3 linked regions of the Homo sapiens genome follow. The protein of the gene in region 2 interacts with the protein of the main gene of each other region in a pairwise test. Each region holds a gene or a part of one and is shown on either strand. Other genes may lie near its edges.

Region 1 (3,651 bases), on a different chromosome or scaffold from region 2:
CTACCTCAGCCTCCTGAGTAGCTGGGACTACAGGCATACACCAGCACACTTGGCTAAATTTTTAAAAATATTTTTTTTAGAGACAGGGTCTCACTATATTGCCCAGGCTGGTCTTGAACCCCTTAAGCAATCCTCCCGCCTACGCCTCCCAACATACTGGGATTACAGGTGTGAGCCACTGCACCTGGCCCCTTTCTTTGTATTTGTATCCAGGTTGGTGCCTTATGTTTCACCTCTGTGAGCTGGAGAAGATGTTACCCCTATTGAGTCTGATTTCCTTCCCCTGCCTTTGAGCTTCTGCTCATCTATCACTTTCTCTGCCCAAACTACCAGCCTCCACTGGCTAACCCAAGCTGTTCTTCCTCTGAGAAACTTTCTCGGATGACCTTAGTTCAAACTGATACCCTCCAAACCCCTCGGTACCTCCTGTCTCTGATTTAGTACATGATCATGTACTCTCTCAGTCACTTTTCATTTCTTTATATCCTAGCTCCCAAACAAACCAGGAACTCTTTGAGAAGGAGGATTATAACCTGCAGTTAAAAAGAAGGAGTTTGAGTCCTCTTTCTGCTATATCCTATACTCTTCATAAATGTTTTGTGAGTGAGGATTAAATGAAATATACATGTAGAGAGCCTGACACCCAAAAAGTACTTAATATAACAGTCTGTACTGTTGTTATAAATAAATAAGAAAATATTGCTCTCTTTCAAGGGGGACTGTAGGATTGTTAAATACCAACCTGCCCTCATCTTCTGCAAGGAAGAGTTTCTTAAAGGCTCCAGTGGGTCTGGGGTTTTGGCTGTCTTGTTCACTGCCTTCCCTTCACACAGTTGTCTAACCCTCACTGCATTCTAAGTGCTTCTCTCTCACTAAAAGTTTCTACAACCATATTGCCTTCATTTATTCCCTTGCATTTTTCAGGCAGGACTTTACTTTCTCGTTTTCCTTATAACCTTGACAGTCACTTTTCAAATGATCCCATTTGGGGAAATGTGTAAAAACATAACATGCCACTGGTCCCCTCCTTTTTAGCCTCAAAGTCTGTGGCCCACTGAGTGCAAACTCAGATTGACACCAGAATTGCATCCTCTGGACACAGTGAATTAGCAAATTTCAATGGTCCAAGGAAATCTGAATGCAGCTCACTTTTTTCTCCAGCTTCCCAAGAGCAAAATCAGCAGTAATAACACAGTTGCAACAGTGATCCTATAATAATGCTGTTCTTCGATTGTGGAAAAGGCAGCAGTAGCTCCTCTGTAGGAAAACCTGGGTTTTACCACACTCCCACACTCCCACCTAGTGCCCACAAGGCCCAGAGTAAACGTTCTGTGACATGGCTGTCCACATTCAAGGTGGCCAACACCAAACAATGCCAGTTCTCTGTTTCCCAGAAGCAGCCTCTCTGACCTGGGGGAAAATCCAGTTTCATTGGCGTATCTTCAAAGATAAAAAATCATCATCTCTCTCTCTCCTTTTTTTTTTTTTTGGCAGAGTCTTGCTCTGTCGCCCAGGCTGGAGTACAGTGGTAAGATCTCAGCTCACTGCAACCTCTGCCTCCTAGGTTCAAGCAATTCTCCTGCCCCAGCCTCCCAAGTACAGGTGCGTGCCACCACACCCGGCTCATTTTTGTATTTTTAGTAGAGACGGGGTTTCACCTTGTTGGCCAGGCTGGTCTCCAACTCCTGACCTTGGGTGATCCACCCACTTCGGCCTCCCAAAGTGCTGGGATTACAGGCGTGAGCCCCCATGACTGACCTTTTTTTTTTAAGTGATCACTAAAAAATCAAACTAACAATCAATTTTCCCCTTCCTGTCTAGTTGATTATTACTGACCCAAGCAGGTAAGTTTTTCTTTGGACCATCTCTTCTAAAATTTCACAATGATCTTGCCCATCGACCTCCTAAAACCATCTGATGACTATATTCCCAGGCCAGCTCCTCTCTCCTTAGAAATGCTAATAGTATTCTAACACCAACACGATTCCTACACAGGTCTCTTTAATTCTGTGGCACTTTCTCTCTACCACTCTGCTCTGCCTTTCTGGAAGACAGTTTACTGACCTCTGTAATAAAGGATAGATAATCAGAATGCAAAATGGCCCCACAGCCTCTTTACAACACCTGGATCAGACCTTTCAAAGCAGTGCTTACTTTCCATCCTGGAAATAACCTGGGTCCTTAGCAGTGTGAGAGCCTGGAAAAGGAGCTCTTGAACCATGTTTGCCCAAGACTGGACAGCGGGCACACTTACCAGTGTGCTTCCTGCTGTGCATCTGTAAGTGGGACAGCTTAAAATATCTCTTATTGCAGCCTGGGTAAGCACACATGAAGGGGCGTTTCTCACTGGTCTCAGATGCCGACCGTACAAGAGTCGGGGCTACTCCAGGCACACGTCGCACATCCTGCAGGCAGAGAGTAAGAGGAAGGGAGGCTTTAAGCCACATGTGAACATTCACGTAGGTCTTGAGGGAGAGTGAGCACTGGAGTATATCCAAAGAAGGGGTGGCAGGTGCAGACCTAAAACCACTCCCATTCACACTCCAGATCCCCATGGCAGACATCAGTAATGGATGCTAGATCAGGACATTCTACAATGCAGTGCTCTAAGATCATCACTACTGAGCAACCAGAAGTGGCTGTTGAGATGAAACCTACATGAAATGGCTGTCCCAGAGCCTCTGCAAAAGAAATGCTGGTACCTGGAAGAGCTCCCAATCCATTCTATCTCTCAGCTTCTCCTCTTGAGGTAGTGATGTCTGCAAGTCCAAAGTCCCAAAGTCTAACTACTCCCTCCCACTTGGAGTCATGACCACATGACCTAGAGCCAGTCTGCAATGGGTGGGGACATCCTTATTAGAAAAAAGTGGGATAATGAATGAGCCCCTAACTGACCAGATCGTCCAAGTATAAGTAAATAACAAGGAAGAAGAAGCCCCTGGATTTGGGGATCCCATCTGTGAAAGGAAGCAAAACCCACCAGAAGGCCATGGTGAAGCCAGCACAACCTTTAATAGTGAGGCCAGAAAGCACTGGAATCCATCTGCCTTCTGTGCTCTGCACACGTCCTTTGCAGGGCATCTGTTGCTCCCCTTTATCTTGTGGAAGTGCAGTGTGTGTGTTGTCAGTCTTCCAAGAATAAGAACTGGAGGAAAACAAAGAGGCAAGCTCCCCTTCCTCTTCTTGGGGTCAGGGAGTCATAAATGGGAGCTGAGCAAGTGCCTGAGTGGCCACTAAATTCTCCTCATTCCTTTATAGATGAGTAAATCAACCCCAAAGGCGGTGAGATGCTGACACAAGAGTGCATCCATGTTTTGGTTTTGTTTGTTCTTAAGACAGGATCTTATTCTGTTGTCCAGGCTGGAGTGCAGTGGCACGATCGGGGCTCCTGCAGCCTCGACCTCACCAGCTTAAGTAATCCTCCCACTTCAGCCTCCTGAACAGCTGGGACAACAGGTGAGAGTCATCATGCCCAGCTAATTTTTTTTTTTTTTTTTGGTAGAGATAGGGTCTCCCTATGTTGCTCAGGCTGGTCTCAAACTCTTGAGCTGAAGGGATCCTTCCACCTTGGCCTCCTAGAGTGCTGGGATTACAGGTGTGAGCCACCATGCCTGGCCTAAAGTGCATCCATGTTTTGTGCTAAGACCTGGA
Region 2 (3,751 bases):
CCACACCAAGGACACCAGGAGCCCCCAAGGAGTTGGAAGAGGTAAGGGAGGGTCCTCTTAGTCTAGAGCTTTCAAAAGGAGTGTGACCCTGCTGACACCTAGATTTTGGACTGCAGGCCTCCAGGACTGTGAGAGAGCCAATTCTGGTTGTTTTCAGCCCCCCAGAGAGTGGAAACTTGTTACAGCAGCCACGGGAGACTAACACACCATGGCTGGGGATGAGACAATGCCCCGTGACCACATAGCTCAAAAGCTTTGGGAAAGTCAGGGAGGGCCCTGGTGGGGCCTCATCCACAGCACAGGAACTGGCCGGACTTCTGCTGGGGTCTCACACTCCTTCCTCCACGCCCTGTCTGTGTTTGGGTCTTGAAGGGAAAGAACCTCAGGCCAGGAATCAGAGTGCCTGGGTGCCAGACCCAGCGACACCCCTCCCCAATCAGGCAGCCTTCAGGACGCAGCTGCTCTGCCCCTGCACAGAATGGTCATGAGGTTCACGCAGATAATGATGGAGAAGGAGCTGCCAGCTCAGGAAAGTCCTGGATAAACACAGGGTGGCGCTGGTCATTAATCCCCCCCGCCGTGCGCACCAGACAGAAGCCAGTGCCAGCAGAGAATGCCAACATGTGGGGCTCTACTGACATGCCCAAGGTGTTCAAGGCACACGGGAAGTGGATGGGAAACTGAACCATGCTAACAATTCTTTGTGCTTCTATGGCATGAAAACCATAGATGATGGCGTCTCATGCCTATTATCCTTAGAGCCTCCCAGTGACCCTGCGAGACAGGTGGAAATGGCAGGCATGTGGTCTGCATTTTACAGATGACACATCTGGTTCCCAGAGGCCAGGGACTGGCCCCTGGCCTGTCGCTGACTCATACTCCTCCAACTCCAAGCCCGGAGACCCAGGTCCCCCACAAATAGTAATTACACACACACACTCAACCACGCACGCACACACACACGGGTAGCAGGTACAGGAAGGAGAAAGGACCGGGAGCTCAGACCCACAGAGATGAGAAGCTGTGGTTCCAGGTGGAGAAGCACGGGGAAGGAGAACAGGTTTCCCTGTGTGCTCTGAGCGCTGCTCAGAAAGAAAACCTCACTGATAGGACCTCCACCCAGACCTCTTCCATCTCCTGTGGCCACTGGCTAGAGAATTCACCAGCAAAGCAAAACTGTTATGCTGTAAATTCCAGACAGAGGGTACTACCCAGCATGCCACCTTCTCTTTGATCTCCCCACCCCAGTGAGTCTAACTCTTCCAGGGGTCCAGACTCTGTGCCTTGAAAATCTCCTCCGCACCAGCCTCTTCTACCGCACACCTCCCTCAGCCAGCCCCATCTGTACCTCCGGGGGTGTCTCCTTGTCCTGGGTGTCCTGGATGCCTCCGCCGTCTGCAGACATTTTCTATTTCAGAGCTAGAAAGAACAGCTGAGTTGTTTCTCCCTCTTTTTGGCCAAGCCCCCTCCAGCTTCTGGCCAGGAGCCTAGAAGAGCAGACAGAAACCAGCCCTCGCTTCCTGGACACCCCCAAAGAGCCCTGAAAATCCCCACGAGTACCAGCGCTCCCTGGTCCCAATCGGAAAGAAAGTCTCCCAGATCCTATCCGATGGTCCCACTCTCTGTGATGTTTTCTGGGTCCTATTTTTGAAAGAATGCTATTTTGTATTGTCCCCTTTATTGCTGAAGCAAGAGCCTCGCATCTCAGTGTAACCGGCTCAGGGAAAGCCGAGGCTAAATTGGAATCGCTATTTCCTGTCATCAGGAGCAGAAAGTTCTGCAGAGATCCTGCAGAACAGGTGCTGGTGGGGCCCCGCCCGTCAAGGCCAGGGTAATCCAGGACCTGCTGTCCCCCGACCCCAGGACATACACCGTGTGTCCCTACCTGACTCCCATGCCCACCAGGAATTCAGAAATCAACCTGCCCGCTCTCAGCAGCCCCCCTGCAGCTGCAACCACCTGCCCCAGGCCTGGGATGCCCATCCTGCTCTCGGTCCTGGCAGACAATGTCCTTCTCCTTCCCAAACCCGGTCCTGGCCCCCTTCTCTCCTGCCAGCTTGAAGCCTTCCACCTTTGACCCCATCCCCTCCTGCAAGCTGATCATCTGCGCCGGTCTCGGGATCCAGATGCCCTCCCCAGCACCCCCTTCTCACCGGGGTGGAGGCAGAGGGGGCACCTGCGGCAGTGGGGGCCCCCTCCCCCGGGAAGGGAGTCTCCACAGCCTGCACGGGGCGGGCGGGGGAGTTGGGTGGAGACTGGGAGTAGGGAAGACAGGAAGTCCCTCCCAGATCCCATTCCCCATGCAGCCGCAGCCCTACAGCGTTCCCGGTTTTGAGGGTTCCGGGTGTGGAGTCTCGAGCCTGGGTTGCACCTGCTCTTGGCCGGGAGGTGACTCCCAGAGCCGCAATGCCAGCTCATGAGGATGGCTTTACCCAGGACGCGTTCATGATGCCAGCAAGGCAGAGCCACCAAAACAGAAAAATGGAAGATGCATTTTGTGGAAAGATTGTGTTATTTGAAATTTCAAAGCGAGCACTGCAGTTGTCCTCACAGGTAGAAAGAAGGGCATTTTGCAGGGTGGAGAGGGCAGGACCATTTATTTTAGCACTCGGGGTTTCTGAAGGTTATTGTCTCCTGAGGGACCCTGAATTCATTTAGGGACTCCTAGTCAAGGGCCCTCTGGGTCCCCCCAAGACTGGCACAGAACTCTCTCCCTAAGAGTGAACTTGGGAAACAGGCTGGGAACTCCCCCCAATCCGGATGCCCCACACCTTGGGAAGAAGTTGGTTAATCCGATTCTTCCAGGCCCATTTCAGCTTGGGGATAGAGGGTGTGATCCAGCTATAAATGGGGTTCTAAGTTCTCAAACACGCCTGGCAGCTGCAGATTCTGCCTCTCAGGCACCATTTCCCTTTAGACCCTGAGAAGTAAGGCCTCAAATAGAGAGGACAGAGACTGTGCTTTACTTTCTGGGGGAAGGAACCATTTCTCTTGGGCAGGCATGGGGGCTGGGTGTCAGGAAAAGGGCCAGGGGCCCAGTCCTGGAATCAGATTCCAGGAAGTTTCCCTAGGAAACGTCCCCATGCCACTGTCTTTGGCTCACCAGAATCCCCTGAGGTGCACAGCTTCACACAGTAAGATGGGCCCAGCTGCCTCTGTACCAGCTCGTGCTATGTTGTGTGGGCTTTTAAGGGTTTGTTTGTTTATTTATTTACTTATTTGAGACAGGGTCTTGCTCTGTTACCCAGGCTGAAGTGCAGTGGCACGATCATAGCTCACTGTACCCTCAACCTCCTGGACTCAAGCAATTCACCTCAACCTCCCAAGTAGCTGGGGCCACAGGCGCATGCCACCATGCCTGGCTAATTTTTTAAATTTTTTTGTAGAGATGGGGGTCTTGCTTTGTTACCCAGGATGGTCTTGAACTCCTGATCTCAAGCAATCCTCCCACCTCCCAAAGTGCTGGGATTACAGGTGTGAGCCATCATGCCCAGAGGGTTTAATTTTTTTTTTTTTTTTTTTGAAATGAAGTCTCACTCTGTGGCCCAGACTGGAGTGCAATGGCGTGGTCTTGGCTCACTGCAACCTCCACCTCCCTGGTTCAAGTGATTCTCCTGCCTCAGCTTCCCAAGTATTTGAGATTACAGGTGCCCATCACCATGCCGGGCTAATTTTTGTATTTTCAGTAGAGACGGGGTTTCACCGTGTTGGCTAGTCTGGTCTCGAACTCCTGACCTTGAGTGATCCACCT
Region 3 (3,651 bases), on a different chromosome or scaffold from region 2:
TCATAAGGCATAGAAGTGTGTGGCTGGTGTAAATATAGCTTTCAGGCTGCGTGAGGAACTAAGGAAGGCCTACTAGACTATTTTATGGGAAGAACTGGATTTGTGGTTAACCAGAGTCCTAAGATGTGCAAGGTCAGTGTGTGAACTATGCTGGAGTGTGATGTGAAGCAGAGATCAAGAAATTAGTACAACAGAGATGTTTTACTGTTGTACTTCCCATCAGTGAAGGATGGGAAAGGGCTTTTATTACATACCAGACACTATGATTACATCTCATTTTTGTACCTTATGAAATATCTATGTCTACTTTATGCATGAAGAAACTGATGTTCATCAAGTTTTAGTAGCCTATCCAGCACTACAGTGCTAGTAATTGAGTTAAGCCAGTGACTTGCAGAGCTAGGATTAAAACCTATATATTAGGCCGGGATTACAGGCGTGAGCCACCACACTCAGCCAGAAAATCGTTTTTAAGTTGTAAATCAGGTAAGTTTTATTTCTGACAAATTAACTTTTTAATTGTGTAGTCCATTTTTCCCTTTTATAAGATGGGGACCTATTAGTACAATTAAGATGCTCATTTCCTGTTGTGTAGTATGTAGTGCTAAGGTAATCACTTAGCTAGTCATTGAAATAAATGAGATCAACATTTACTGTTTTTCTAAAGGTAAGCAATTCTTTTCTGAAAAACTTTTACCTTTTCCTCTGCAGCACTGGATTTCCTGGAACAAATTTTGACATTTAGCCCCATGGATCGGTTAACAGCAGAAGAAGCACTCTCCCATCCTTACATGAGCATATATTCTTTTCCAATGGATGAGCCAATTTCAAGCCATCCTTTTCATATTGAAGATGAAGTTGATGATATTTTGCTTATGGATGAAACTCACAGTCACATTTATAACTGGGAAAGGTAAATTGATCCTAAATTAGAAAAATAATATTTACTGAACTTTCAGTGGACCATATGTAGTGAGTTTTTTTAAAATTATGTATAAGACATTGTAGAAGTCTTAAAAATTTAGTAATGTAAAGATACAAAAATTAGTCAGGTGTGGTGGCAGGCGCCTGTAGTCCTAGCTACTTGGAGGCTGAGGCAGGAAAATCACTTGAACCCAAGTGGCCGAGGCTGCCGAGATTATGCCACTGCATTCCAGTCTGGGCAATAGAGCAAGACTCCATCTCAAAGAAAAATTTAGTAATGGTCCTTAATATTTATATCTATAAATAGCCGTTAATTAAAACATTTAATAAAGTAATTACTGGTTAGATGATATATGGGAAAAGTTAAATGCTACTTTGAAACATTTTCAAAGTCATTAAGGCATATTTATAAAGTCCTTTAACTGTGATTTTATGAATGTCAAAAATTTAAGATGTTAGATGACAAGACTCAGTCATATCCAATAAAGTATCTCCAGTGTCTCAGTGGTAGTTATATCTTAACATAAAAAGTATTTGATTCATATTAGATGCAGGATTTTTTTTTTTTTTTTTTGAGATGGAATCTCACTCTGTCACCCAGGCTAGAGTGCAGGCTGGAGTGCAGTGATGCAAGCTCAGCTCACTGTCCTGCCTCAGCCTCCCGAGTAGCTGGGATTACAGGTACCCAGCTAATTTTTAGTAGAGGTGGGATTTTATGTTGGCCAGGCTGGTCTCGAACTCCTGACCTCAGGTGATCTGCCTGCCTTGGCCTCCCACAGTGCTGAAATTATAGGCGTGAACCACCGTACTCAGCCAGTATTTGAATCTGTTTTCCTAATGACACAATTAATTTGGGGACACTTAACATAGGTTCAGTAAAAGAGACTTTTTTAGGTCTAAACATTAGTGTATAATGTTATCCATATTTTGATGTTTCATAAAGTGAAATAATTGGATTTCTAGGAAAGTTTGGCTGGGCGCGGTGGCTCATGCCTGTAATCCCAGCACTTTGCGAGGCTGAGGCAGGCCAATTACCTGTGGTCAGGAGTTCGAGACCAGCCTGGCTAACGTGGTGAAACCCGGTCTCTACTAAAAATACAAACATAAGCCAGGCTTGATGGCGGGCTCTTGTAGTCCCAGCTACTCAGGAGGCTGAGGCAGGAGAATCACTTGAACCTGGGAGGCAGCAGTTGCAGTGAGCCGAGATTGCACCACTGCACTCCAGCCTGGGCGACAGAGCAAGACTCCGTTTCAAATAAATAAATAAATACATTTCTGGGGAAGTTTAGATATAATTCTGCTTCAGAGTAGGATGGTAGCTTATAGAGTCATCAGGTGATTTTGATGCTTCAGAGTAGGATGGTAGCTTATAGAGTCATCAGGTGATTTTGATGTATGGCCAAGTTTGGGAACCACTAATGCCAATCTTTTTAATCTTAAGATTTTAAGAAGAAATTTTTTTCCCCCTCCTCAAATGTTGATGTATTGGTATGGTATGTTTACACAAATCTGCAAACTACTTTTTTTCTCCATGTGTCCATTTCTACCCCCTAAATAATGGTTCTTTTCTTTTTTGAGACGGAGTCTCACTCTGTTGCCAGGCTGGAGTGCAATGGTGCCCATCTCTCTGCTCACTGCAACCTCCTGAGTTCAAGCAGTTCTCCTGCCTCAGCCTCCCTACTAGCTGGGACTATAGGCACCCGCCACCATGTTCAGCTAATTTTTGTATTTTTAGTAGTGGGGGTTTCACCATGTTGGCCAGGCTGGTTTCAAACTCCTGACCTCAAGTGATCCATCCACCTTGGCCTTCTTGAAGTGCTAGCATTGCAGGCCTGAGCCACTGCACCTGACCTGCATTTTCTATTTTACCTAGCTAAGTTATCTAATCTCTTTTCTTTTCCCTCAATGATTATACATGTCAGTAATAGGATAGCGCATTCAGCAGCACGTATACACAGGGAGATTTTTGCTATTCATGGTGATGAGTTTTCCAGCAAACCTCCTCCTCTTCTAGTTGCCCTTACTGTAGAGTAAACATTTAGCAAACCTCCTCCTCTTCTAGTTGCCCTTACTGTAGAGTAAACATTTGTAAGGTACCTGATTGAGATTTGAGATCTGCATTTTGTGGCTATGAAGTCTTTTGTTTGCATGGAACTGGTGGACAAAAAACAAATTGGAAATGAAGTTACATACTGCATTGGCAATTACCAAATATATTAACAGAGCTTTCCTATCAAGACTAAGTTCTGGTAGGGCAAGGCAGGCATATTTACTCTCCTATAATTATCCCCTCATAGACCTAGCACAGTGCTGTCACATAGAAGGTACTCGGTGAATTTGAAAATGAAATCATATACGTAGAATAACGCTAGTGTATTGATTTTTTTCAGGTATCATGATTGTCAGTTTTCAGAGCATGATTGGCCTGTACATAACAACTTTGATATTGATGAAGTTCAGCTTGATCCAAGAGCTCTGTCCGATGTCACTGATGAAGAAGAAGTACAAGTTGATCCCCGAAAATATTTGGATGGAGATCGGGAAAAGTATCTGGAGGATCCTGCTTTTGATACCAATTACTCTACTGAGCCTTGTTGGCAATACTCAGATCATCATGAAAACAAATATTGTGATCTGGAGTGTAGCCATACTTGTAACTACAAAACGAGGTCATCATCATATTTAGATAACTTAGTTTGGAGAGAGAGTGAAGTTAACCATTACTAT

Evidence for each region.
Region 1: the proteins of ZNF205 (region 2) and WT1 interact in a two-hybrid assay, tested with the Homo sapiens proteins (one large-scale study listed by BioGRID and IntAct).
Region 3: the proteins of ZNF205 (region 2) and MAPK6 interact in a two-hybrid assay, tested with the Homo sapiens proteins (one large-scale study listed by BioGRID and IntAct).

The regions. Positions count from the first base shown.
Region 1 is NC_000011.10:32,394,003-32,397,653, forward strand, and holds part of WT1 (Wilms tumor protein), read right to left. Parts: intron 2,406-3,651; coding exon 2,255-2,405; intron 1-2,254. UniProt on the Homo sapiens protein: Transcription factor that plays an important role in cellular development and cell survival. Recognizes and binds to the DNA sequence 5'-GCG(T/G)GGGCG-3'. Regulates the expression of numerous target genes, including EPO.
Region 2 is NC_000016.10:3,111,085-3,114,835, reverse strand, and holds the start of ZNF205 (transcriptional repressor RHIT), read right to left. Parts: upstream 2,251-3,751; 5' UTR 2,154-2,250; exon of another isoform or gene 1,886-2,153; intron 1,488-1,885; exon of another isoform or gene 1,420-1,487; 5' UTR 1,406-1,419; coding exon 1,349-1,405; intron 42-1,348; exon of another isoform or gene 1-41.
Region 3 is NC_000015.10:52,060,588-52,064,238, forward strand, and holds part of MAPK6 (mitogen-activated protein kinase 6), read left to right. Parts: intron 1-711; coding exon 712-913; intron 914-3,314; coding exon 3,315-3,651. UniProt on the Homo sapiens protein: Atypical MAPK protein. Phosphorylates microtubule-associated protein 2 (MAP2) and MAPKAPK5.